Regions from separate parts of the Homo sapiens genome. Here all the other regions are reported to be linked to region 3. Evidence: microRNA targets listed by miRTarBase, many of them from high-throughput screens and not tested one by one. Region 3 holds a microRNA gene; each other region holds the end of a gene's coding sequence.

Region 1 (7,535 bases), not on the chromosome of region 3:
TCACCTAAGCCACTGTAATAGTTTAAGTTTGTTTTTTTTTCATGGTAGCACTCCACTTCCACGATTCATGACTGTATTGATCAAGATAGGCCAGGTTATGTTGCAGAAACAGAAATTCCCTAACTATAGAGGCTTAAAACAAAAATACTCATTCTCTCTCATGTGCCCATCTGAATAAACAGGGAGGCTCTGTTCATAGTAGTCCCTCAGTAACCCAGCCTGATGGAGCAATCACCATCTCAAATATGACAAAGCACTACGACAAACGAAAAAAATTCTAAAAAGTTTCACATCAACAATTATATGCTCCAAACCAGAAGCCACTTTCACTCACAATGCACTGGCCAGGAACTAGTTACATGGCCACACATACTAGAAATATTTGGTGAACTGTAGGAATGAAAATCACATTAGGTTTTTAAAAATTAATAAATAAAACTGACTTTGAAGAGGTGAAGAAAAAAAATCTAGATGAAAACATCAAGTCTTAGAAGTTTATGCCAGGACAAGAAGCTTTCCGCTAGTATTGTGGTAAGAGAATTTTCCATTTTTACCTACAAATACTTAAGTATTGTTTTACTATTTTTCTATAAAGAGTATGTTAATATAATAATGGATATTTTGGCTGGGCGTGGTGGCTCACGCCTGTAATCCCAGCACTTTGGAAGCCCAAGGTGGGTGCATTACCTGAGGTCAGGAGTTCAGGACCAGTCTGGCCAATATGGTGAAACCCCATCTCTACTAAAAAATACAAAAATTAGCCAGGCATGGTGGCCGGCACCTGTAATCCCAGCTACTCAGGAGGCTGAGACAGGAGAATTGCTTGAACCTGGGAGGCGGAGGTTGCAGTGAGCCGAGATCGTGCCATTGCACTCTAGCCTGGACGACAAGAGTGAAACTCTGTCTCAAAAAAAAAAAAAAAAAAAAAAAGGCCGGGTGCGGTGGCTCACGCCTGTAATCCTAGCACTTTGGGAGGCCAAGGTGGGTGGATTGCCAGAGCTCAGGAGTTCGAGACCAGCCTGGGCAACACAGTGAAACCCTGTCTCTACTAAAATACAAAAAAATAGCAAGGTGTGGCAGCGTGCACCTGTAGTCCCAGCTACTCAGGAGGCTGAGGCAGAATTGCTATAACCCGGGAGGCAGAAGTTGCAGTGAGCCGAGATCATGCCACTGAACTCTAGCCTGGGCAACAAAGAGAGTCTCTTAAAAAAAATAATATTTTTTGATTAAAAAACTGAATAATCTTCAAAAAATTGCAAATTTGTAATTCTAGAACACGAAATAGTAAGAAATGTGGACCAAGTTTATAAACTAAGTTCCACTGTAATGGTTACAATAATGAAAATTAAAGAATGGTTATAAAGGTATGATATGGACTATATGAAAATATAAAGTAAAAGCTGGCAAACTTTTTCTTAAAGGGCCAGATTGTACATAACTTAGGCTTGTGAGCTACATGGTCTCTGTCTTATATAACTGTGCTGTTGTAGTGCAAAAGTAACAAGAGACAATATGTAATTAAATGGTATGGCTGTTCTAATATTTTGTTTATAAAAATAGGTGGTCAACTGTGGGTCATAGTCTGCTAACCCCTAATATAGAGAATCAAAATTTTTTTAAGGAAGTGGAGGCCGGGCGTGGTGGCTCACGCCTGTAATCCCAGCACTTTGGGAGGCCGAGGCAGGTGGATCACTTGAGATCAGGAGTTCAAAACCAGCCTGGCCAACATGGCAAAACCCCCGTCTCTACCAAAAATACAAAAATTAGCCAGGCGTGGTGGCAGGCACCTGTAATCCCAGCTACTTGGGAGGCTGAGACATGAGAATTGCTTGAACCTGAGGGGCAGAGGTTGCAGTGAGCTGAGATTGCACCACTGCACCCCAGCCTGAGTAAGAGCGAGACTCCATCTCAAGAAAAAAAAAATGTTTTTATGGCACCAGATAAAGATGAAATATTTTAAAAGTTTAAAACTGGCCCAGCATGGTGGCTCATGCCTGTAATCCCAGCACTTTGGGAAGCCGAGGCAGGTGGGTCACCTGAGGTTGGGAGTTTGAGACCAGCCTGACCAACATAGAGAAACCCAGTCTCTACTAAAACTACAAAATTAGCCAGGCATGGTGGCACATGCCTGTAATCCCAGCTACTCAGGAGGCTGAGGCAGGAGAATTGCTTGAACCTGGGAGGCGGGGGTTGCGGTGAGCCGAGATCATGCCATTGCACTCCAGTCTGGGCAACAAGAGCAAAAACTCAATCTCAAAAAATAAAAAAGTTTAACAGCATACTTTATACTTCTCCAAATCTCCACAAACAGCATGCTTTACTTTAATATTTCGGGGAGAAAAGTCATTTTAAGAAAGATGTTGGAGTGAATCAGCAATACAGTCAATTTTTCTATTCTGTTTTTGGTAAAGTCTAATGATCCTAGATGTACCTGGGGCATTTTCCAGAAACCAAAATCCAAGGTAACTTCTGTGATCAACTATCTTTCAAGCCATTAACTTCTGCAGCTACAGCATCCCTTAAAGTGTGGCCCAATAATCTTCATAATAATGGCACACTGTGCCATCAATGAAGACCAAATTATGTGTAATATATTTTTTAAAAATAAAGGCAATTTTACGGTACTTTTAACAAGCAATTAAAAGTTAGCAAGAGCTAATTATAAAAGTAATTTCACCCAACATATCTCATTTCTTAAAGATGTTATAGTTGTTGCTACAGATGTGTTTAGTTCCTCACAAATGATCTGAGTGTATCTTTTAATTTGAAGCTTTCAAGTTGAAAATTAAATATTGTCATGGCTTTCAAAAATCTATTCATTTTGTCTACGTTGATCTGCAGATGTGCATCAGTCAAAAAATAGTTATGCATCGCTTAATGACAGGGATCTATTCTGAGAAGTGCATTGTTAGGCGATTTCAGCGTTGTGTGAACATCATGGAGTGGTCTTACACAAACCTAGATGGTATTGCCTACTATACACCTAGACTATATGTCATAGTCTGTTGCTCCTAGGTTGCGAACCTGGGCAGCATGTTACTGTACTAAATACTGTAAGCAAGTATAACACGATGGTGTTTATCTAAACATAGAAAATGCACAATAAAAACATAGTATAAAGATAAAAATTGTACACCTATGAGTACTTACTATCAATGGAGCTTTCAGGTCTGGAAGTTGCTCTGGATGAGTCAGTGAATGGTGACTGTGAAGGCCTAGGACATTACTGTACACTTGGGCTAAATTTAAAAATGTTTTTCTTCAATAATAAACCCTAGCATACAATAACTTTTTTACTTTATATATTTAAAATTTTTTTACTTGACTCCTGACACAGGGTCTTGCTCTGTCCTTCAGGCTGGAGTACAGTGGCTTGATCATGGCTCACTGCAGCCTTGAACTCCCAGGCTCAAGTGATCCTCCCACCTCAGCCTCCTGGATAGCTGGGACCACAGGCAAGTGCTACCATGCCTAACTAATTTTTTTTTATTATTTTTTGCAGAGACGCAGTTTCACCACATTTTCCTGGCTGGTCTCAAACTCCTGGGCTTAAGCGATCTGCCCATCTCGGCCTCCCAAAGTGCTAGGACCACAAGCGTGAGCCACTATGCCCGGCCTTTTACTTGACTCTTTTGTAGTAACGTTTCGCTAACAACACAAACATTTTACAGCTGCACGAAAGTACCTTCTTTATATCCTATTCTATAACCTTTTTTTACTATTAAACAAAATTTTTTTTACTTCTTAAACTTTTTTTAAAAAAACTAAGACACACACACATTAGCCTAGGCCTACATGGGGTCAGCATTATCAAGATGTCACCAGGCAAGAGTAATTTTTCAGCTTCATTATAGTCTTATTGGACCACCATCATACATGGGGTACGTCATTATGTGGCGCATAACTGTACTTAAAAGATAATTGTTTTTCCTCTTAAGTTTAGAAATAGGTAAATCAACTGTTTCACTTCTTAGCTGAGTAAACAAGTCTTACTGTTGTAATAGTCTAGTAAAAATAAAACACTTGCAATCCTCTTCTAGTGCATACAAACTTCCTATTTCATTATAGTATAAAAAGTAGTCTTGTCAACCATGAAGTCAAACAATGACCTAACAGAAGCCTACAAAAATGTAACGATATTAAAACTTCAATAATTATTTTATAAAGTGTATCTTTACATGATATACTATCTTGCCTATTAATAAAAATGATTCACAACTCCTTGAGGAAAAATCCCCTTTCTTCAGGTTAAGAAGTCTTTGATTCCATATGCATTTAACAAGCAATTAAAAGTTAGCTAGAGCTAACTATAAAAGTAATTTCACCCAACATATCTCATTTCTTGAAGATGTTATAATTACAATTAGTATCATCCATAGGAGGATTATTTGCAAAAAAAGAAATATTTTAAAAGGAAATGTTTAATATAAATGCTAGTAACTAGATGTAATGGAAAAACAATAACTTAAGAATCAGATCAAACTGGGTTCAAATCTAGGCTTTGTAACCCTAGCCAAATAATTGCCCAGATATTTGGTTTCCTTATCTTTTTACTTCTAACCAAAATAAAGTGACTCACCTCTTGTTAGTTTCTTTCAACAAATGTTTAGAATAGTTCTTTAAAAATTCATGGGGTAAAAAAAATTTATAGTTTCTTCCTTAAAACACTGAAGAGATGGAAAGGGGAAGAAATAACAAATAAATATGGTATTCAGATTTTCAATATAAATTAGCAGTGCATCCTACAAAATAAATATAATGATTCTTGATGTTATTAAACTGCACTTATAATCCACCATAATCCCGTTGTTTTAACAGGGAACTATAACATACTAAGGTGTCTTGATAGTTCTTAGGCAGTCACTAGAGTGCATCACTGGCTTTCATATTCTTATCAAAGGAGTTTAAGCACTACAAAGCAGGAGTAGGCAAACTATAGTCCATGGGCCAAATCCAGCCAACATCCTATTTTTGTAAATAAAGTTTTACTGGAACACAAATAGGTTCATAATTTACATATCATCTACAGTGGCTTTCATGATACAAGGCAGAGTTGGGTAATTGTAGCACATGGCCCACAATTATTTACTGTCTGGCCCTGTAGAGAAGGTTTCCTAACCGCTGCTCTAAAGCACTGCTACCAAAGGTTTGGTTTGCATACCTGGATTGGTTGTTCCTGATTGGAGATAAGGAGATTGAAAGAGAATGTAAACCAGCTATGGTACCAAATACAATTCTTAATTCAGCTATTTTTTTTTTCATTGCCAGACTTTCTCAATGAAGCACTTACAGTCCAGTATAGGTTCCTTTTCTCATAGTATATAGGTACAAACAGTTCATTGACCTGCTACTTTGAATACCACTACTCAAAAGGTATATGGGGGCTGATGTAGCAAAGCTCCAAAGGGATTATGGTGTCATAATGTGATAATGTGGCAACAGACTGAATGAGACTCACAAGTGGTCCTTATAGAGACAGGCGTTTTTCCTAACCCTGCTCTTCTAAGGTTTATATTATTCCAAAAATCTTCCATGATACAGAATTACATTTTAACAAGGTGAAGGATGAGAGCTAATGGCTCCCTCTCTCCCTATCTTTTCTTGGGAGCAGGAAAGATAAAAATATTAGCTCTCCTCCCCAAAATACTCCAAATAATTCATAATATATTTTGCCTATTTAGCCTCTTTAAATTGTTGGGCAGATAGAAAAGTATAATATTAAATTCTATTTCTCTTGAAGTAAAAGAATTTATAAAGCAAATCTATTCTCATAAATATTAGCAATATTGTCCCCTGTACTTTAAGTCCTAATTTAAAATAATGTATCAGCAGTTAAAGAATGTAGAATGGAATCCTCACCACTAACACTGATATTAAATTTCTTGAACAAGTATATAATTTCTAAAGGCACCAAAGGTAATCTGAATCAAGCAGTGATTGGAAAAATAGAATTATTCGGGGGCAGATTTTTATTGCAAATATTTACTCAAAAACTACTATATACAGCAGAGTATTTTAATCGCCATTTAAAACATTGAACATTCAGTGAAACAAAATTTAAGAATCCAAAGCACATTTTAAGAAGTAAAAATGAAGCATTTTAAATAAAAGTTTATTAGTATTTCAAAGCAAACTACTGTTCTTCATATTATTCATTTCTATATCTATTATATTCTAGATGATAAAAAGAACTGAAAAATCAATTTAGCAGCCATCTTATAGATAAATTAGGCTAAATTTCCAAAACCAGTTCTTTTACATCACTGTTTTAGGTCCCATTTGAAGTTTTTATTTTACAATTACAGAAAAGTCACTTAAACATGGCTGAATACATGCCAGGACATGTTTTCAGTTTACTGCTTTACAATATCTACATTATACCATACTTTGGTTTGGCTTCCAGACCATTTTTATGGGCCTATTTCTAAGGAAGATCATTAAAACAATATTAAAAGCATAATAGCTACAGGAGTTTCAACAATGGGTTTCTACTTTACATTAATACAACTAATACATCAAAGAATTTCTACACAGCTTACACACTGACAAAAAGCACAAATATAAATTTATATCTTAATAATTCCACTTTCACTGAAAGTTTAATTAAGGTAAGCTTACAGCCTGGCAGGCTAACACTTGTATGGAGGTACAAAGATTCAAATATTCTGTTTACATGCGTCTGACTGGAATGTTATATTAAATCCAAAATTAAGTTTATGTTCATCCAAATTCTCATTAGATCAATTTAGTACTCTAAGCATGCTCCATTTACCAGCATCATCCTCACAAATAAAGCCTTCATTAACAATGCCAATCAGCCATTGTTTTTAATCAATTACTCCCCAAAAGTACATGGTTTCCAAATCCCTTCCTCTCAGTTAACTGAAAAGGATATACAGGTAATAAAGATTTTTAGCTTAGGATTGATGGAAGTTTGAAAGGCTTTATAAATATTACTAATATCATCAATTCATGTCAGCAACCAAATCCCATTTCCTTGAAAACCATTAAATGAGACCTTTCCACTGCAAATTTAATTATCATTAAAATCCTGTTCGTGTTTTTAAAAACTTTTTGGGAATCCCTACTAATCATGCTATTATTGGTGAATTGATTTGTTTGATAACATAGGTTGAACATACAGGTAAAGTGTATGTGTGACCTCCCTTACATATTTCCATTTCTGAACCTACAACAGCACCACTGAGCTCACCTGATAGCACTGTTCCAAATGCCCTTATCGTTGGTACACTGAAACTTAAAATGACTAATTTCAACTTCTTTCTTTTTCGTCTTCCAGGTCTACTGTTGCCTCTGTTGTGCTAGGGTTATTTCCTCCAGGAATGTCATCTGTTTGATCAGACACTACTTCATCAGTCTTGGCTGAAGGATCACCACTACCTTTCTGAAGAATCTCTGTGGCTTCATACTCAAGTACCTCGGATGGAGTCAGAGGTTCCAAATGAATACTGCCTTGCTCGCTAACATCAGAACTAACAGATTCAGGTTCATGTCTTTTTCTCAAAAACTGATCA
Region 2 (4,222 bases), not on the chromosome of region 3:
AGTAACCTTTTTACTATGTATATCAAAACATCATGTCGTACATCTTAAATGTTTACAATAGGCCGGGCACAGTGGCTGACGCCTGTAATCCTAGCACTTTGGGAGGCTGAGGCGGGTGGATCACGAAGTCAAGAGATCGAGACCATCCTGGCCAACATGGTGAAACCCTGTCTCTACTAAAAATCCAAAAATTAGCCGGGCGTGGTGGCATGCACCTGTAGTCCCAGCTACTTGGGAGGCTGAGGCAGAATTGCATGAACCCGGGAGGCGGAGCTTGCACTGAGCCGAGATTGCACCACTTCACTCCAACCTGGCGACAGAGTGAGACTCCGTCTCAAAAAAAAAAAAAAAAAATTACAATAAAAAATGCTGATTCTCAGCAAAGTATCACTATACTTTGAGAAGGCAAGACTGTATGTCAAGCATTTCTGAAAGATGTCAAACAAAAACTCCTGAAGTTTCACTGAAGTGCTCTCTCTTGAGATGTATGGTGAATGAGAGAATCTTGTACTGAGAAACACACCACTGACTATAAACTACTGGCAGTATGATGAATTTACTACCAGCAAGCCAGGGCCACTGCTGCGAAAACAAAGTCAAGACTAGGAGAGATTATCATAAAAAGAGTGAAGGAGGCCAGGCATGGTGGCTCACGCCTGTTATCCCAGCACTTCGGGAGGCTGAGGCAGGAGGATTGCTTGAGCCCAGGAGTTTGGGACCAGCCTGAGCAACATAGTGAGACTTCATGTCTACAAAATAATAATAATAAAAAGCCTAGCATGGTGGCACACACCTGTAGTCCCAGCTACTTGGGAGGCTGAGGTAGGAGGATCGCTTGAGCCCAGGAGGTTGAAGCTGCACTGAGCCAAGATCACACTACCGCATTCCAGCCTGGGCAACACAGCGAGACCCTACCTCAAAAAAAAAAAAAAAAAAAAAAAGTGTGAAGGACATTGACTAAGAGCTCCTTGAGAAGCTAGAACACATAAAGACCCGTGCCTATAGGAAATATTTCTTTCTTTTTTTTTTTTGGAGACAGAGTCTGTCTCCGTCGCCCAGGCTGGAGTGCAGTGGTGCGATCTTGGCTCACTGCAAGCTCCGCCTCCTGGGCTTCCGCCATTCTCCTGCCTCAGCCTCCGGAGTAGCTGGGACTACGGGTGCTTGCCTACACGCCTGGAGAATTTTTTTTTTTTTTGTATTTTTGGTGGAGACGGGGTTTCACCGTGTTAACCAGTATGGTCTCGATCTCCTAACCTCGTGATCCGCCCACCTCGGTCTCCCAAAGTGCTGGGATTACAGGCGTGAGCCACCGCGCATGGCCAACTATAGGAAATGTTTCTAAAGAGATCTAAAATTGACAGTCAAAAGGTTATTATGAAAGGCTGGACTTAAATTTTTTCCCCGTAGATACTAGGAAATACACAACTTATTAAGTTAAAGTCTACGCTTACACTTAAGTCACATTTTTTAAAAAGCCACTAAAATCCCATGCTTTAATGATATTAGTACACAATTCAAAACACTGTACCACGGTATCCCCTCACTGGTACTCAGAACACAAATGAAACACATCTTGATAAAGTAAATACCTTCCTATTTGGAATGTGCAAGACATAATTTACTAAGTTGATTCTTTTCAACTATTAGGGACTGAATTTTATTCTCAAAGAGATGATCACAGAACATGAGAATTAAACAAACCTTCCTATAAAAGAAATGGATGCTTTTATTCAACCTGAGTTAAAACCACAATGAATCATATCAGAGTTCATGGGAATCATAATAAATGACTAGTAAACCACTCACAAAATCAAAGCTATCAACATACTAGGATCACACACATTAATTAGTGCTATAGTTCAAAACATACCCTTTAACTTATTTAGCACGCAAAATAATCATAAAAGTAATGTCTATAAGCTCTAACCAAAAATTTTAAAAATTAAAAATAGCACAATTCTACAATTCTGATTTTACCAAGAAAATAAACCTTTTTTGGCACATATTATCCTATGAAAATGGAAAGCTGAGTCAGGCTGCTCTGCTTTTCACAGCACAAATAAGCATTCATGCTATCAGACTTGGGAAATTAACTCGGTGACAAAAATTCACTGGAAAATAGAATCCTTGGAAAAATGGGGTCAGGTGCCATCCACTGTGAGGCAATGATAATGTGTGTCCTTCGTTATTAGCACAAAGTTAGGCAGCACACTATAATTTTAGCTACATGCAACTCTATAGGAACACATGTGGGTAAGGCCTGAAAGTTACAAGCAAGAGTGAAAAGAACTGCTGTGTTGGGACTGAGGAATGATGGGTGTTTGTTTTTCTTTAAATGTCATTTCACCTTTTAAAGGAAAATAAATCAAGTAGGTAGGTAAAAATTACTGAACTAAAGAGATACTAAAGATCAGAAGACTGGCCAATTGAGAAAATCAAGTTTCATGATTAAGAGTGACTCAGGAAGGATGTCTTAGTTATGAGGGGGGTGGTGGAAGACAGTTTATATCTTTGGGTATTTATGGCAGGTCAGAATTAAAGATTTAACTTTTTCCCTTACTCTTTACATAAAAAGCTGGTTTATCTGAAAAAAGTATCAATCTAGACTTGGCAATAAAGTGGCACTTAGGCACTATATTATTGATATCTACAATGACCTCCTGGATGCACAAGAGACCCTGAAGGGCTTTTTTGATCAGCAAAACAAAAACAGAAAAGCAAAAAACAGTTAATTTTTGTTTGGTCAAGTTTACTCAACCAGACCACCTTGATACCAACAATGCTGGAGAGCATTTGGCAAGAGCAGGGCCACAATGCCAAATTCCTTGGAAAGGTAGACTTCCTATGATACTTTCATGGATTGGCAAATTTGTGGGGTTTTTTTGGTAGTAGCTTTTGAGAATGTTAGTTTCTGGCTGGGGTAGTGACTTACATCTGTAATCCCAGCACTTCGGGAGGCGAAGGCAGGTGGATTGCTTGTGCCCAGGAGTTTGAGACCAGCCTGGGTAACATGGTGAGACCCCATCTCTATTTTTATAAAATTAAAAAAAAAAAAAAAGATAGAGAATGTTACTTTCCTATAAAGCCATGATACCCTAAGTACTAAGACATGTCTGTTGTTGTCCTTTCCTTCATAACATTTCTCATAACCCGTAATTTACTTCTCATCTGTCTCCCCTAAAAGGGCAGGGGCCTTGTCTATTCTGTTCATTACCATATACCCAGCACTTAATAATGTCTGGTACATGTAAGTGTTCAACAAATATTAGTTGAATGAATAAATGAAGTATGAATGAATCTCATACAGCTCAACAGACCTGGGGGAAAAGTGAAGACAAACAAACAAACAAACAAAAAAAAAAACAAAACCCTAAAAAATACTTAAGGAAGACAGATAAGCAACAGTTCTATCAGTTGGGGTTATGAGACTTGATGCCAAAAAATTTACCATCATTCACAACTGACAATGGTTGTTCAGAGATTCAAAATATCTGAAAGATTTCAACTGAAAGTTAATATAAAACAGTGTTCTCTGGAAGACTCATGTACAAATAAGTTAATTAAGGGCCTGTTACTAAACCAAGATACAACAGGAGCCTAATGTTTTGTTTGTTTCAAGATGGAGGAGACTCTGCTGCATACACTTGGAGGTCTAGATTTCCATAGAGGGCACGTAGCATATTGAGGACCTTTTCTTGAATAGTGTCAACTTGGTCAGAAGGACAGTAATCATCCAGACTTGACCTAGAACCAACAGAAAGAGAAAGAAGAAAAATACACATAGGATAAAATCATACTGTGAGGAAAAGCTGCATGTGTTCATTTCAATGTAAAACAGAAATTAAGGTGTGCTGAACTTTGGATTAATATCAATTGAAAGCTAGTGAAGGTTTACCCCATGTTAGTCACCTTACATAAATTATGTTCTTTAATTTTCACAGCAACTCTATGAAATAGGCACAATTACTATCCCTTTAAAGAAATCTGAAAGAGATTAACCTGTGCAAGGTGACATGCGGTGTGTGCCTTAATGCTTGATTGCTAGACCATTGTTTGCCTGAAAGTGAGATGTTGCTTGGGAATACAGGGGCTTATTATCTTAGCGATGGAACATCTTTTATTATGTGTGTGCTAGGGCTAGAAATGATGAGGGTCGAGGTTTTCCAACTGATAAAAGGATCCTATTTCTAAAAATGATTTGTTAACTACAAAATTATAAAGG
Region 3 (8,068 bases):
CTCCCTAGTCTTTCTCAACATGGAGAGAATTGGCACTGATGCCCTAGGACATGCATTGTTAGTAATAAATTAACATTTTCCTGCGCAGCTGGAGTGAAGGAACCCTAATTGAGAAAGGCTGTCCTAGACAGGGACAGTTCACAGTGTGTTCTTAGCTCCTAGCACAGTGCCTGGTCCCTAGTAGGTGTTCAGTAAAATATTTTTTGAAAGAACAACTTTTGTATGTATCCCATAAATAATAACCTTTACTTACAGATAGTGATTATTGTAAACCCGCTCTTATGCAGAATGAGCAAAGAATGAGTTCTTGTTAGTTGGGGTATACCGTATACATTACTAGTATTCTAAGAATTAGAATAAATACATCTAATGCCGAAAGCTATACTGACCATAGTATAATCTTTTTTTTTTTCCTTTTTTTTGAGATTTATTATGGGAATTGGATCATGCAGTTACAGAGGCTGAGAAGTCCCAGGATCTGCCATCTGCATGAGCCCGGCCACAAAATATCCCCTTCTTTTATTTATTTTTATTTTTATTGTTATTTTTTTTGAGACAGAGTCTTACTCTTGTCATCCAGGCTGGAGTGCAATGGCACGATCTTGGCTCACTGCAACCTCCGCCTCACGAGTTCAAGCGATTCTCCTGCCTCAGCCCCCCTAGTAGCTGGGATTACAGGCGCCTGCCACCACGCCTGGCTAATTTTTTGTATTTTTTAGTAGAAACGGGGTTTCACCATGTTGGCCAGGCTAGTCTCGAGCTCTTGACCTCAGGCGATTTCCCTACCTCGGCCTCCCAAAGTGCTGGAATTACAGGCAAGAGCCAGCATGCCTGGCCTCTTTCTTAGATGATTAAGGCATTGTATGGTTTTGCAGAGCAATTATCATTCAGCAAATATTCACTGAGCACCTACTATGTGCTGGGCACTGCAGTCAATCCTGGGGTCGTAGATGAGCAAGACAGACAAGGTTCCTGTCTTCCTGAGCTGTAATTATCATTACATACACAACTATAGATATAGAGGGCATGGTAACTGCATTGCATTGAATACATTTGTGACATACCATGAAATTTGATCTTTGTGAATAAGTTACTATTACATACTTGTCATTTTTCTTTCTACTAAAAATAGATTGTACAATATCAGTTATTTTCTGGTTGTTTGGATGTCAGTTAAAAAGGAGTTTCTTGCATTTGTCTCCTTTCATCTGACCTACGCATGGCAAACTGCTCTTTTGCAAATAGATGCTAGGCTGACCCCACGCAAGGTGGGAAACTTATTTAGAAATGAACCACTGTAACTTGAAATAAATCTTTACACAAGTGAAAGCAGGTTTTGTCTTCTTTTTTCCTGATCTACCTTTTAGTGACTAAGCAACATAAAACTCTGAATGTGTCCTGAATACTTTCTGTAAGTGTTTACTGTTTGTTCCTTTTGTTTATGCTTATTGCTAATAATTCAGCCATTTAGTGAGTAATATTGAGTGCCTATATACCAGGTAGTTTCCAGTGTTCCTAATTAACTTTTAGCTGAATTGAGATTTGGGCAGGTGAAGCTGGCCATTTTTATATTGATGCAACTGTTCAAAAGAGCTTGTTTTTTCAAAAAGCTGCCAGTTTACCACCTGCTGAGCAGTGGGTTCTAGGAGGTAAAGGATGGCCAGTGGCCCCTGAAAGAACCATAACTAACCTTGCTGTGTCTGCATGATGTGCAAAGAACTAGCCCACTGAGTGAAATCAAATACTGGTTTGTTGAGTGATGGAAAAAATCAAGGCTCATTGCTTGTCTAACATGGTTATTCAGTTCTCTCAAAGAGGGTGAATGCATGGGATATAAAAAAAAAATACTATTTTTTTCTTCAAGGTGGTGGAATTTCCTGTACATCTGTAGTGCTTTATACAGATGAACCTTTTACATCTGGAACCCTCGAGACTGGGGGAGTTTTTCTGGTTAGGTGGAGGGAGGTTCTGGGCTTCCACAAATGAATTAGGTGCTGGCTCTCGAGTTTATTTCCTTTCACTTAACATTTACCTTCTTGGCCTGGTATAAGGGTAGATTAGCGGTGATCGTAAAACAAAACATACTGGCACAACTGCAGCATATGTTAACACTGCTGCAGCTTAATGATGAATGAGTGCTCAGCACTGCAGATATGGGCACAGGATGCCCTATGCCCACACATTGGCAGACAGCCCCTCAATTATTGCAGTGTATGGACGGATTACTGGGTCGGCTGACTTCTTGATAATAGAAGATGTGATTTATAAATGATAATGGACCGTGGATTTCCAGATTTAGAAGGTTAACCTGTATTTGTGAAGTAGAAATCATTGATTTCTTGTGCCATATGTATTTAATGGAATATGGGAGGATTGGTGATGTTGATGATATTGCTGTTCAAGCAGATATCATCATTTGTTTTTTAGACGTCTCTATTATATGTTGTCATAAAGTATTAATGTGGCAATGTTTTCCTAGTCCCTTTCTCTTTACCAAGGTATTCTTGGAAAAATCAGAAGTGTTCTTGAAAATGATCTTGCAGTTAGCACAGCATCAGGTAAACAGTAGATGTTCAATTAATACTTGTTTAATTGTTTTGAGCTGAATTGGTAACACAGTCTGAGTCAGTAATAACAGATGAAGAATGATCAGTTTAGGAAGCAGCCACCAAGAAGCTTATGCATTTCAGACTGGGCTACAAAATTAGCCAGGAGTGGTAGCACAGGCCTGTAATCCCAGCTACTTGAGAGGCTGAGGCGGGAGAATCACTTGAACCTGGGAGGCAGAGGTTGCACTGAGCCGAGATCGTGCCATTGCACTCCAGCCTGGGCAACAAGAGCAAAACTCCATCTCAAATAATAATAATCCTGTATGCTTACTATAAATACAGATTCCTGGGCCTTGAACTTACTGAATCCAAGTCTTGGGTGACAGACTCCAAGAAACTGTTTTTAACAAGCATTCCAAGTGGTTCTTAGGTTCACTAAAATTTGAGAACAGCAATATATAATATAGTAAACACGGAAATATTTATTTTCTGGGCACACTCTCTGTTCACCTTTTTGAACTTCAGTTTCTTCATCGATAGAATGGGAATAATAATACCTATTTCACAAGACTGTTGAAAAAAACGTTTGGTAGACTATTCAACACTATACCAATTGTGACAGAGGTCCTCAAAACCGGCCTAGGTTTGTTGATTCACTGGCAGAACTCAGTACATAGAAACGCTTGCGGATGTGATTTATTATAGCAAAAGGATACAGAGCAAAGTCAGTAACGGGAAAAGGCTCATTGGGGCCAAGTCTGGAGGAAACCATGTGCAAGCTTCCAGTCCTCTTTCACTGAAATCACACAGGTCATGCTTAATTCCTCTAGCAAATGAGTTTTGACAACTTGTGTGAAATGTCTACTAGGGAAGCTTATTAGAGATTCAGTACCCAGGGTTTTTAGTGGGAGCTGGTCACACAGGCACCCTCCACCTGGTACACAGCAAAATTCCAGACCCCAAGGAGGAAAGCAGGTATTCAGTGTAAACCCTATTGTTTACACAGCTTAAGCAGAGTGAGCCACTCTTATCAGGGTGATGGAAACCCTCCCAAAATCCAAGTCCCCAGACACCAGCCAAGGACCAACCTTGCAAACAGGCCTTACTAAGAATAGCAGTGTCAGGCCTGCTATGTTAACTCTTTCCATCACGCAAATATTGTGAAACACTGGTATTTTTTCAGTGAAAGGAAATGACTTGTCCAAGATCATTAAGCTAATCAGCAGTACAGCTGAGACAGACTCCCAGCAATCACATCTTTTCTTTGCTGCCCATAGCCATGCTTCTAGATTATGGGTCATTCCTTTTCATACTGTCATTGAAAGCACTTACTGTTTGTCACTTGAAGCAGAAGAGCAGCCTGCCGGTGGTAAATTGATGCACCCAGTGGGGGAGCCAGGAAGTATTGATGTTTCTGCCAGTTTAGCGTCAACACTTGCTGGTTTCCTCTCTGGAGCATCGCCAAGTTCGTGGATTTTCATTTTTCCTGACTTTTGGACTTTTGTTACTGCTCCCATTCATTTGCTCATAGTCCTAATACTCATTTGCATCATCACTTCATCCCATTCTATACCTTTTGGGTAACACAATTTCCAAATGGTGGGAATACTGCAGTATTTTGTCAAAGAAGACTATATAGGAAAAAAAAAATTCTGAGCAATGAATTTTATGGCAATATTTACAAATATTGGTTTATATCCTGGATTGTCTTTTGAGTTTTATAGTCATGGAAAACCCTAGGGATATCTCTGGTTATTTGGAGTTTCAGCCATTTTTACTGTTATAAAGGAAAATTAACAAATTTGTTATGATTGGAGCAAGGAATAAGGAAATCATACTGGATGGTGCAGTAATCCCACATATCGACAGGGAGTAGAAGCCAGGAGGGAATTGCCACAAGTAAGTAACAGCTGGGTAGAGCAGATTATGTAAGCTACACCTGTTGTGTAAGCAGTGGGGACGTTCTTTAAGCTTCACAATTAATGTATTTTGCAGTAATAAGGATTAAGGGATCTATAGTATAGTGTACAATTTATTCTGGCTTCTTTTCTGAAAACATTCATGTGAATCACAGCTTTCTTGGAACACTCATCCCCTATTTGGTGCTGTAGAGGTGTGTAAGGTACAGCCCTGCTCACCAGTAGCCTGCAGTTTGGTAGAAGAGAGAGAAGACCAGCACACAGGACCATCCTCCACACAAGGCCAGTAGGTCACCAGAGCCATCCTTTTGAAGGACATACACAGTAAGTGCAGTAGGCATTCAGAAGGAGGCACTGGCTCTCTGGCTTCATTTCTTGGGGAGAGCTTTATGGAGGAAGTAGCCTGTCAACTGGGCCTCTGGGGACCCAAAGGGCTGAAGGTTCTGAGATTTTAGGGATGGGCAGTCTCATTACAGGAGGAGGCAATTACCTGAGCAATGGTGCAGGGTCATTGTTGTACTTAAAGCATGGGAACCAGTCAATTTAGAGAACATACATGCCAACCCCAAATGAGTTTGAGCTGTTATAAAAAAAAGTATAACAGGTGGGGCTCAGTGGCTCACGCCTGTAATCCCAGCACTTTGGGAGGCTGAGGCAGGTGGATCATTTGAGGTCAGGAGTTCAAAACCAGGCTGGCCAACATGGTGAAACCCCATCTCTACTAAAAACAAAAATTAGCCAGGTGTGATGGAGAGCACCTGTAATCCCAGCTACTCGGGAGGCTGAGGCTGGAGAACTGCTTGAGCCAGGGAGGTGGAGGTTGCAGTGAGCAGAGATGGCACCACTGCACTCCAGCCTGAGTAATAGAGCGAGACTCTGCCTCAAAAAAACAAAACAAAACAAATAAAAAGTATAACATAGATTCAGTGGCTTATGCACAACAGAAATTTATTTCTCACAATCCTGGAACTTGGAAGTCCAAGATCAGGATGCCAGCATGGTTGGGTACTGGTGAGGGGGCTTCACGTCGCAGACTGGTGACTTATTGTATCTTCACATGGCAGAAAAAGAGTGAAATGAGCTCCCTAGGGCACTAATCCCATTTATGAGGGCTCCACCTTCATGGCCTGATCACCTGTCAGATGCCTCACCTCCTAGTACTGTCACCTTGGAAGTTAGGATTTCCACATAAGAATTTTAGGGGAACACAAACATCCTGTCCATGACACAGCAGAAACACCAAAACCTCGATCTTCAATGCCTTACGTTTGCTGTAGTAATTTTGATTTTAAAAAAGGAGATGCTAAAAACAGGTGGCTTTAGGTCTCCACAACAATAGCTATAGGAATCTTCCCATACATAGATGCTCTTTTCTGAAACCTATGACTCCAGTAAATTTATGTCATTTAAAAAAAATGCATATATATATATATATATATATATATATATATATATATATATATATTTAGAGAAGGAGAGAGAGAGAGAGACAGTCTTGCTCTGTTGCCCAGGCTGGAGTGCAGTGGCACAATCTCGGCTCACTGCAACCTCTGCCTCCTGGGTTCAAGTGATTCTCCTGCCTCAGCCTCCTGAGTAGCTGAGACTACAGGCGTGTGCCACCACACCTGGCTAATTTTTGTATTTTTAGGAGAGACAGGGTTTCACCATGTTGGCCAGGCTGGTCTTGAACTCCTGACCTCAAGTGATCCACCTGACTCAGCCTCCCAAAGTGCTGGGATTACTGGCGTGAGCTGCCATGCCCGGCCTTATTTGGTGCAGAGACAGTAAGGCAGAGACCAGGATGAAATATATATTTGGGGTAATATATCATGACACTACTTCATATATTATTATAGGACTGCTTACTTAGTTACCCTGCTTAAATTATGGGTACACATTTCTGGTAACTTTCACTACACATGGGAGACAGGATGGCAGTTCATTTTCTTGAGTACTAGTGGTCATTTATTTAAAAAGCTGGAGATCAGGCCTTTTTTCAGGAGCACATTCCTTACCAACACATTTATAGTTCACTGCTATTAGATAAGAAAGCTTTTGATAGACTTTCAGATCTGACTGCATCATTCGGACTTACCAGAACATGAATTGCATCTCATTCCCTCTGTATTAGTCTATTTTCATACTGCTTTAAAGAACTGCCTGAGATTGGGTAATTTATAAAGGAAAGAGGTTTAATGGACTCACAGTTCCACATGGCTGGGGAGGCCTCAGGAAACTTCCAATCATGGCAGAAGGCAATTAGGACGCAAGACACCCTCACAAGGTGGCAGGAAGGAGAAGTGCCGAGTGAAGGGGGGAAGAGGCCCTTATGAAACCGTCAGATCTCGTGAGACTCACTCACTATCACGAGAACATGGGGAAAACCACCCCCATGATTCAGTTGCCTCCACCTGGTCTCTCCCTTGACAGGTGGGTATTATGGGGATTATAATTCAAGATGAGATTTGGGTGGGGACACATATCACCCTCATAACCAGTTCATCACGACACCATGCTTAGTCAGTGCCACTTTTCTTTATCATCATGACTGCCACCCTCGTCTAAGTCATTAGCATCTCTCCACTTTCATATTTGTTCCTCCTCCAGTTTTCCCGTTCAGTAAATGGCACCATCCCCCTCCTAGTAGCTCAAGCTAAAAACCTAGCAGTCATACTTAATACTAACCTTTCCCTTCATCACATTTGTCAGAGAATCCAGTAGGTTCTATTTCTGAAAATGCTGTCACATCCATCCACCTTTCTTCATGCCCACACCTACCACCATTCAAGTTTAAGCTACTGCTGTCATTTACCTGGACCTTTGCAATTGATTATTTTATTATCCACCTTTGCCCTCTCCTATCTGTCTTCCACACAGCTCCAGGGGGATCTTTTACAGACGCACACCAGGAGCACTTCATTGACTTTCGACTGATTTCTGGTTAAATACTTTGCTGGTATTGCTCTCTCTCTTTCACTTTTTTTCATTCACTTTTAAAAACTGAGATAATTCACCTAACATAAAATTCACCACTTTAAAGTATACACTTAAGTGGATTTAAATTTCCTATGCTGTGTAACTATCACAGCTATCTAATTCCAGCACATTTCCACTACCTCAAAAAGAAACCCCATCCGTTAGCTCTTAGTCCCAGTCCTCTATCCTTCAGCCCTTGGCAACCACCCATCTACTTTCTTATCTCTGGATTGCCAGTGGAATCATACAATATGTGTTCCTTTGTGACTGAATTCTTTGGTGTAGCATAGTAATATTTTCAAGATTTGTTCATGTTGTAGCATGTATCAGTATCAGTACTTAATTCTTTTTTTTTTTTTTTTGAGGTGGAGTCTGTCACCCAGGCTGGAGTGCAGTGGTATGATCTCGGCTCACTGCAACCTGTGCCTCCTGGGTTCAAGCGATTCTCATGCCTCAGCCTCCAAAGTAGCTTGGACTACAGGCACGCACCACCACACTCGACTAATTTTTGTATTTTTAGTAGAGACGGGGTTTTGCTATGTTGGCTAGGCTGGTCTTGAACTGACCTCAGGTCATCCGCCCGGCTCGGCCTCCCAAAGTGCTGGGATTATAGGCGTGAGCCAC
Region 4 (8,068 bases), not on the chromosome of region 3:
CCTGCTCTGTCACCTAGGCTGGATTGCAGTGGCGTGATCTCAGTGCACTGCACCCTCTGCCCCAGTGGGGTTCAAGGGATTCTCCTGCCTCAGCCTCCCAAGTAGCTGGGATTACAGGTGCATGCCAACACGCCTGGCTAAGTTTTGTATTTTTAGTAGAGTTGGGGTTTCGCCATGTTGGCCAGGCTGGTCTTGAACTCCTAACCTCGGGTGATCCACCTGCCTCGGCCTCCCAGAGTGCTAGGATTACAGGCATGAGCCACCGCGCCCAGCCCTTTGTCCATTTTCAAATTGAATTGTCTTTTTATTGAGTTGTAAGAGTTCTTTTACATTCTCACTACAAGTCTAGTTATCAATGTGTGATTTTCAGATCTTTTTTCCCATTCTGTATCTTTTTAACTTTCTTGATGGTGTTCTTTGAAGCACAGAAGTTTTTAATTTTGATGAGGTCCAACTCATCACTCTTTCTTGGGCTTTTGGTGTCTTAATTAAGAAACCATTGCCAACCACAAGATCATGAAGATTTACTTGTTTTCTTTCAGTTTGTTCTTAATTGTAGGTCCATGATACACTTTAATTTTTGCACAGGGTGTGAGGTGCAGGGGTCCAAGTCCATTCTTTTGCATGTGGCCATCCAGTTGTTCTAGCAGCATTTGTTTAAAGACTGTTCTCCCACTGCATTTTGTTAACTCCGTCCATAAACGTAAGGATTTATTTCTATATTCTTCTTAATCTTCCATTGATCTACATGTCTTTTCTTATGTCAGTACCACACTGTCTTGATTATAGCTGGACTAAGCCCCTGCTGCTTCAGTTTTTTCCTTTTGTGTCCTATAATTCTCAAGCTTTATCCTGACTGGCAGCATTTCTGTCATCACAAATGTTACTCCTTATCCTTGAGAGTCATCTGAGCTTGCATGGATAAGCATAGGAGCCATAATATACGTGCTCTATATTTTCATGTTTTATTTTGTTCATCACAGTGTACATTTGAGGGCAAGAGGATGTTTTGATTTGCTGGTTTTTTTCTTTTTTTTTGAGATAGAGTCTCTGTCTCCCAGGCTGGAGTCCAGTGGCACAATCTCAGCTCACTGCAGCCTCCACCTCCTGCCTCAGCCACCCAAGTAGCCGGGGACTACAGGCGCCTGCCACCATGCCCAGCTAATTTGTATTTTTAGTAGAGATGGGGTTTCACCATGTTTGCCAGGCTGGTCTTGAACTCCTGACTTCAGGTGATCTGCCCACCTCGGCTTCCCAAAGTGCTGGGATCACAGGTGATAGGCACCATGCCTGGCCCTGATTCACTGATTTGTGAACATATTTTGTGTTAATGACTTTCTGAAGTTCTGTTTTCTAACTACAGGATAGCAGTCGTCCTAATGTAGCACCAGATGGTCTCTCTCTAAAATCTATATCCAGTGTAAATGTTGATGAGCTTAGAGTGAGAAATGAGGAACGAATGCGAAGACTGAATGAATTTCACAATAAACCTATTAATACAGGTAAATGACCAAGTGTAATGGCCTATAGTAGAATCCTGTATGAACTTTTAAACTTTCTTACTCAAGGCTTTCACTAACGTCTGAGGGATAGATGGAATGAGTTTGAAGACCTTTGAGTTGTATGGCCCAAGACATAGTAACTATTGAGCAAAACCAGACCTCAGGATGCAGTTTGCATCAGATTTTCTCTATCAGAGAGGGTGCCCATTTTAGAGTGGAGTCTAAACAGGTAAAATAGTTTTTGCTTATTAAACATATCCAGGCTTTGCTTTCAGCAAAGAAAATGCTATATGATAATAGTAATCACTTTACTAAAGTAAAACATTATTAGAAATTAGCCTAAAGACTTTGAGTTCTTTAACACTTATGCTGTATATTTGCAGTACTACAAAGAAAATTTTTACCTTCTTCTTTGGCTTTCCACACCATGGACAAAGTCTCAGAAGTCAAATAAAGCTAGTCGTCTCCTCATTATGAGTGCATTTTTGTGACTTGCAGGTTAAAGCTAGTCATAGAGCACAAGGCAGGATGGTTCCTTAGACACCTAACAAGCTACCCTGCCAGCCCTACACCACCCTTTTCTATACCAGTGCTATTAGTCACCGGGATAATGGGACACTTTCATATTGGTAATAATAATAGTTTTAGCAAATTACTGGAGTGGTCTATTTGGGAAATACTCTTTAGTCTGTTAATCTACATTACAATAATCTGTTAAGATTTTTTTAGATCCTACCTTTAATACTGTGTTAATTTAAAACTGTACTCATATACTATCTATCTAGCAGTCAAGGTGTGGTGTGTTCTAATGGTGGTAATTCCACACCAAACACAAAGCAGACATGGTTAATTGATGGGACAGTAGGAAAGGATGTCTTTCCAGCTATAAGGCATTTTCTTTTAGACCCAACAAACTGAATTAATATTTAACAGGAATATATTTGAGGGAAGATAGCATTTTAAGAATCTTTTTCAGAAGGTTTTTAATGTCTACACTGTTTTTTAACATTGTCCTTTCAAACAGGAGCTTTTTGTTATTATGTGGATTGACTGCACATACCAATCCTTCACAGACCAGGAGAATTAAAAAAAAAAAAAAGAATATGATATCACAGGGTAGGAAGACAGATTTTCCTATTATTATACCTAATAATAAATAAAAGTAAAATACAGATAGAAGTTGCGTACAATCAATCAGATTCAATTAAAGAATGAAGCAAGAGCTACCTCTTCATTGACTGGACACGGCCTTGTTAGATTAGGTGTTTTAAGAATGGAAGTAATCTCATGCCAACTAGTGTTTTCCCAAAATAACTTAATAATTTCCTTATAGCAGTGTTGTAGGTTGAAGAGTATTCCCCAAACCTTGCTTTAAAAAAAATAAAAAGAAAAAAGAAAGAAATTTTATGTGTAGCCATTAGGCTTCTCCTGAGGTAACAGTTACAAAATAAGACTACCTACATTCCTCCTGTTGACTTTGTTTTATGGAGAGGTGCCTTTGATATGCTTAGAATCCCTCTGGTTGCTAGTGCCATGGAGTCAGCTTACTCAGTTGATCATTTTTTGTTTTACAAAATTGGCCTTTGTGGGCCCACTCTCCTCCCTCTAAAATAGGGTGGGGTGGGGTGAGTCTAACCAAAACAAACAAACAGTAGAGTTCAGGATATGAGACTGTGGGGAAATGCTGAGTTGTAATGAGTTGGACTACAAGAGACCTGCGCTTATGTCTCCTGCCTGCCACCTGTGTTACCTGAGCCACGTGTCCCTTGCCTCCTGTAGATGATGAGAGTTCACTGGTTGACCCTGATGACATCATGAAACACATAGGGGATGACGGATCAAACTCTGTAGCAACTGAGCCCTGGCTCCGCCCTGGCACTTCAGAAACGCTGAAACGTTTCATGGCAGAGCAGCTGAACCAGGAGCAGCAGCAGATTCCTGGAAAACCAGGCACTTTCACTTGGCAGGGCCTGTCGACTGCACATGGTTAAAATAAACCTGTACTGGACCCAGTAGTGCCTTTTAAGGTGAAAGGAATGGTAAATCTGTACCTTTAATATGTCCTACTTTTGGCCCCTACCTGAAAGTTACTTTTTTTCCATCATCTGTATATAAAATTATTTTTATCATGATGTATATTATGTACATAAATAAAAGGCCATGATTATTGATTTATATAATAGAATTGTATAGATTATTTTTGCACAGTTTTGTCATAAATTAGGGTGGTAATGAACTGGATTGAACTACTATATGTGCATTATATTGAATTCTGCTTGTCATTAAGATAAGGTGAATAAGTGTCTTAAACGTCCTGTAAAACCGGACTCCCCTTTGTTACATGCACATTTTCCATTGTTACCTCGATGCAAAAGAATTCATTTAGTAGGTACATCTATTGTAGCTGTGATTATTCCAGTTTCTGTGTGATGCAATCAAATGTCCTATTAATTAATTATTATTTCATGTCATTTGTAGCTACTGATACAGCAGAAATGAAGGGAACTGTAATTACTTGTATTTTTGTAAGCCATACGTTAAATGTTTGTTACATCATCTTTCTGCTTCTATTTTTATGCCAATGAAGGCATTTGTCTTGTTACTAATTACATGATGTAACTACTTCTTGATATAAATAAATTTTTATTTTAATTACTAAAATCTTTTTAACTACTATGGAGCTTTCTAGACTAGTTTTCTAGAGGTTGAATAGAGGTGGGGACACCCGGGAGTCAAGGACAGAGAGACTGGAGTCTTCTTCTTCCACCATGGAACCTTGGATAAGTGAGTCCATGTGAGTTTTCTAATCACTCAGTAAGTGATACTTCTAAAAAAGGAAAGAGTCATTCAAATAATTGTGACATTCTGACTCAGATTAGAATCTCAGAACCATGACAGCTGAGAACATCCCCAGGCACTGCTTCTCTCTCTAATAATACTTCCTCTGATGTAATTAACGGTTGGTAGACAATATCAGACAAATTTGCCACAATTAAATTACTGATATTTTGAGTTTTGGCTACTTGTAAATTTTTATTTGATTTTCTAATCGGACCATTGTTTGTTTGCTTTACTCGTAAAAATTTGTTCTGTTGTCATCTGAAAGTAAGAAGAAAGCCTCTGACTCTTCTAGGGGAAGAGTCCTGATACTACAACATTAAAATAATCAACTGCCAGGTTGTGTGGAGCACTTACCCTCACACGGCAAGGTCACAGTGGCTCGCAGTTCTAGCATCCAGCTGGGCTTGAACACAGCTAGAGCTGTCTTGGGTGTAACAAATACAGCACACTTACTTACAAATGCATTGTTCAGTAACTGTTCATTATCTAAGAGAGGTGTGAAAGCAAAGACTGAATACTTTTCCTCTTTAACACAACCATGTTAGATGATATTGACACGTTCCCTTTTTGTTTAATGCCATGTACCACACAACTTCAACTGACTCCTCGAACACACAATATTGCAAACTGTGCTGAAGAGAACTTTAGCTCTTTTCAGCATTCAAGTAGTGTAGCCTGATGCTAGGTTATTAATATGCAAAAAATATTAAAAGATTTTTGGGCTGGATATGGTGGCTCATGCCTATAATCCCAGCACTTTGTGAGGCTGAGTTGGGAGGATCACTTCAGGTCCAAGAGTTTGAGACCAGCCTGGGCAATATAGTGAGATCCCATCTCTAAAAAAAAAAAATTTTTTTTTAATTAGGCAAGTGTAGTGGTGTGTGCCTACAGTCCTCACTACTGGGGAGGGTGGAGTGTGAGAATCGTGAGCCCAGTTTGAGGCTACAGTGAGCTGTGCTCATACCACTGCACTCCAGCCTGGACAACAGAGTGAGATCCGGTCTCTAAAAGATAAATAAAAATTTTAAAAATTGCCTTAAAAATAAGTATCCTATGGTAAGTACAGTGTAAGGAGGATCTAATGCTAGAAGCTGGAAAGAAAATACCAGAACCAAACAATATTGAATTTGTAGTTCTGGCTGAAAATGTCTTTTCCATAGTTGTTCAGCCTTAATAGACCAGAATCAATGAAACATGGGGGTGGGTTATACAGGTTTTGATTGCACTGATGAAATAATTCAAAAACTTTATTGACCTATAACCTGATTAGAATATGCCAGATGGGAATCAATATTGTACAGAAAGTTGTACAGAATTTTTTACATAGAAAACTTTACATCTGTACCATATACATTTTGTCCATCTGAAAAAATTTTCTACATCCACTGTTAATACGGAATGCTTGACAATCTTGTCTTTTAACCATCAGAGCACAATTCACAGTATGAATACATTTCCAGTAAATCTAACCTCCGCAAACCATGCCAGATTTGTTATTTTAATATATTCAACGTTAAATTCTGTACATAGAGTAAAATCTACATCAAGCCCCACCACCCAAAAGAAAAGAAAATGACAGCAATCTGGATTCATTTTGCAGTGATTCAAGTTTTGGTCCATAAAGGATCATTCTATTTTAATGGCTCATCTTTAAAAGTCCTAAGAGAAATATGTGACAGGTAGTTACTGTCAGTAGGGATATTTTCTACCTTTTTTTCCCTATTGTTGAAGTGTCGGCCACAACAGCTTCTGGGCATGTTACAGCCTCAAAATCACCACCTACCAAAAAGGGCAAAACTAAAAATCCCTATAAAATAAAAAAGAAAGTTCCACCCAAATGTTTAGTGCATTTGACAAAATATTATGGGTATTTAGCAAATGAATAAGAAAATAAAGAAAACAGTGCAGGAAGAACTATATAATGTTTTAAGATTTTTATATTACAGACCTGCATCTCTGTACATTTTTCACAGGATGATTACCAGTATCTCAGATAGCCTGAGTGTGCAAAAATCTTCAGAATAAGAATACCATAGTTGCTAAATATCTTTTACCATGAACAATAATTTCTTCTTCTCTCCCCACTCCCCAATTATAAACATTTTATCCTTCAAAATACAGCTCTCCTGAGTTGTACTTCTTGTAGAAGTTCAATCTTTACATCTATAGTTCTTTGGGTAAGTTTCACTTCCACACCTGCCAAAAACGTGGGGCTTTTCCTGCCGTGGAAGACAGGGAAGGACCCGTGAGCATGAGCTGACACTGTTTAAACAGGCTTTCTGCTCAACATGAGGCCAATATAACACACAAAATCCACCAGCACTAAAAGGGACTGGAGTGTTGCAAGTTTGAGTAAGACTTCTAAGCATCTTTACCAGTAACTCAGACACTGCAATCCAGAGAAATCATTTTTCAGGTAGGAAACCTCAGCTCCAGCGTCCTTTTAAAGAGCAGAGGGATGTAAATGCCAACAAAAATATTAAGTTCCCATCATTGCTTGTTTATTCCAAGTTCCTGTTCAGGTGGTTGTGATATCTGAAAAACTACTCCGATTCGCAGAAAAAATCTTCTAAGAACAGCACGAAGTTCAGGAATCAAGTCAAATTGCATAATTTCACATAAGAGAGGGTAGTAGAATGATGCATGAGCTTTAAACTGCAGGGAAAATGAATTTCTCCATTAGTAGTGATTGCAAACTGCAGAGCCTTAAACTGCCTAGAGTCAAACTACTCTGGGGCTCCATCACAGGAGCCAGGAAAGCAGGGTCCACAGCAGGCAGTGACTCTGGTTTGTGGAACTGAGAGACAGAAGTGTTAGAAAAACTCACTTCATACAAACACTATTCACTTACATATCCTTATTTTGAAAAACATTTGTCTGTATATCTTTGACAAACTTTTAGTAATTTAGCACTGTTTTTCCTGGGTAATAAGCAGCAGGCAAGTGAGTACAAACTAGAGTTGAGATTTTATAAGCTATGGGTTACTGAAATTTTATCTTTTGTTACATAAAAATTTTAAGTTTTGGGGAAAATTCTACCCAACACTGCAATATAAAATCTAAACAGTTCTTCAGGCAAAGCTACATACGTTTCACATGTACAGTTCAATTGCTATACTTTGGCTGTATCTTCACAGTAGTTCCTTCATCTCTGAACTCTAGTCTGCAGCCTCCTTTCCTACCCCTTCTGTACCCCTCCAGATCCAGGGAAGCAGTGAGACATATTATGACCAAAAAAAAAAAAGCCAGCTGTGGAGTAACAGAGGCTGGGATTTAGAGCCCTTGGCCTTTCAAGTAGTGGGCCACATCACTAGGCATTTTTAAACCTATTCTAGGGTCACAGCAAAGCAGCCTGTATGTGTGAGCTGTAAGTTGCTATTTTTTTTTCTAAGAATAGAGTGTACATTTTTGAAAACCTTAAATATGCACTTATATTTACAGTCATATATGTGTATTTTATCTTTATTTCTACTGGTTTAAAATTCTTAGATGAGGCCCATTCACTAGGGACTCTGGGTTACCTGGAACCACTAAATATGCCAAAGGAACAGCTGCAGCCCAGAGCACAGGCCCAGGAACCAGATGTAGTCTTGAGTAGTAGGCAGAGTACAAGGCCATGAGGTGGTTGGACAGCAGTTTTCAAAATGGGGCAAAGGGGGAGATTCCTGGGGTCATAATGGGAACTTGTCAAGGTATCCCAAGGGATTCTGATCCCTCGCCTACTG

The links. Region 3 holds the annotated microRNA hsa-miR-505-5p (GGGAGCCAGGAAGUAUUGAUGU, at 3,940-3,961, shown strand). A microRNA usually pairs through its seed, bases 2 to 8, with sites in the 3' UTR of a target mRNA and lowers its output. Matches are read on the target gene's strand: a 7mer-m8 pairs with bases 2 to 8, a 7mer-A1 pairs with bases 2 to 7 and ends in A, and an 8mer does both.
Region 1: the mRNA of ZNF280D is a reported target of hsa-miR-505-5p. The part of its 3' UTR that is shown has no 7-base or 8-base seed match.
Region 2: the mRNA of C5orf22 is a reported target of hsa-miR-505-5p. The part of its 3' UTR that is shown has no 7-base or 8-base seed match.
Region 4: the mRNA of CSPP1 is a reported target of hsa-miR-505-5p. The part of its 3' UTR that is shown has no 7-base or 8-base seed match.

Annotation. Positions count from the first base shown.
Region 1 is chr15:56,624,225-56,631,759 of GRCh38, forward strand. ZNF280D (zinc finger protein 280D) reads right to left here. Exons shown (of 22, transcript NM_017661.4): 22 at 5,952-7,535. The coding sequence ends at 7,274. Among named protein-coding and RNA genes, the nearest start is that of ZNF280D, 110 kb to the right of the region's middle.
Region 2 is chr5:31,552,295-31,556,516 of GRCh38, reverse strand. C5orf22 (chromosome 5 open reading frame 22) reads right to left here. Exons shown (of 9, transcript NM_018356.3): 9 at 1,464-3,744. The coding sequence ends at 3,615. Among named protein-coding and RNA genes, the nearest start is that of C5orf22, 22 kb to the right of the region's middle.
Region 3 is chrX:139,920,089-139,928,156 of GRCh38, reverse strand. MIR505 (microRNA 505) reads left to right here and starts at 3,926; the gene lies at 3,926-4,009. All of the region lies in intron 1 of ATP11C (ATPase phospholipid transporting 11C (ATP11C blood group)), which reads left to right.
Region 4 is chr8:67,192,101-67,200,168 of GRCh38, forward strand. CSPP1 (centrosome and spindle pole associated protein 1) reads left to right here. Exons shown (of 31, transcript NM_001382391.1): 30 at 1,364-1,502; 31 at 3,282-4,514. The coding sequence ends at 3,493. ARFGEF1 (ARF guanine nucleotide exchange factor 1) reads right to left here. Exons shown (of 39, transcript NM_006421.5): 39 at 5,558-6,998. The coding sequence ends at 6,834. Among named protein-coding and RNA genes, the nearest start is that of CSPP1, 130 kb to the left of the region's middle.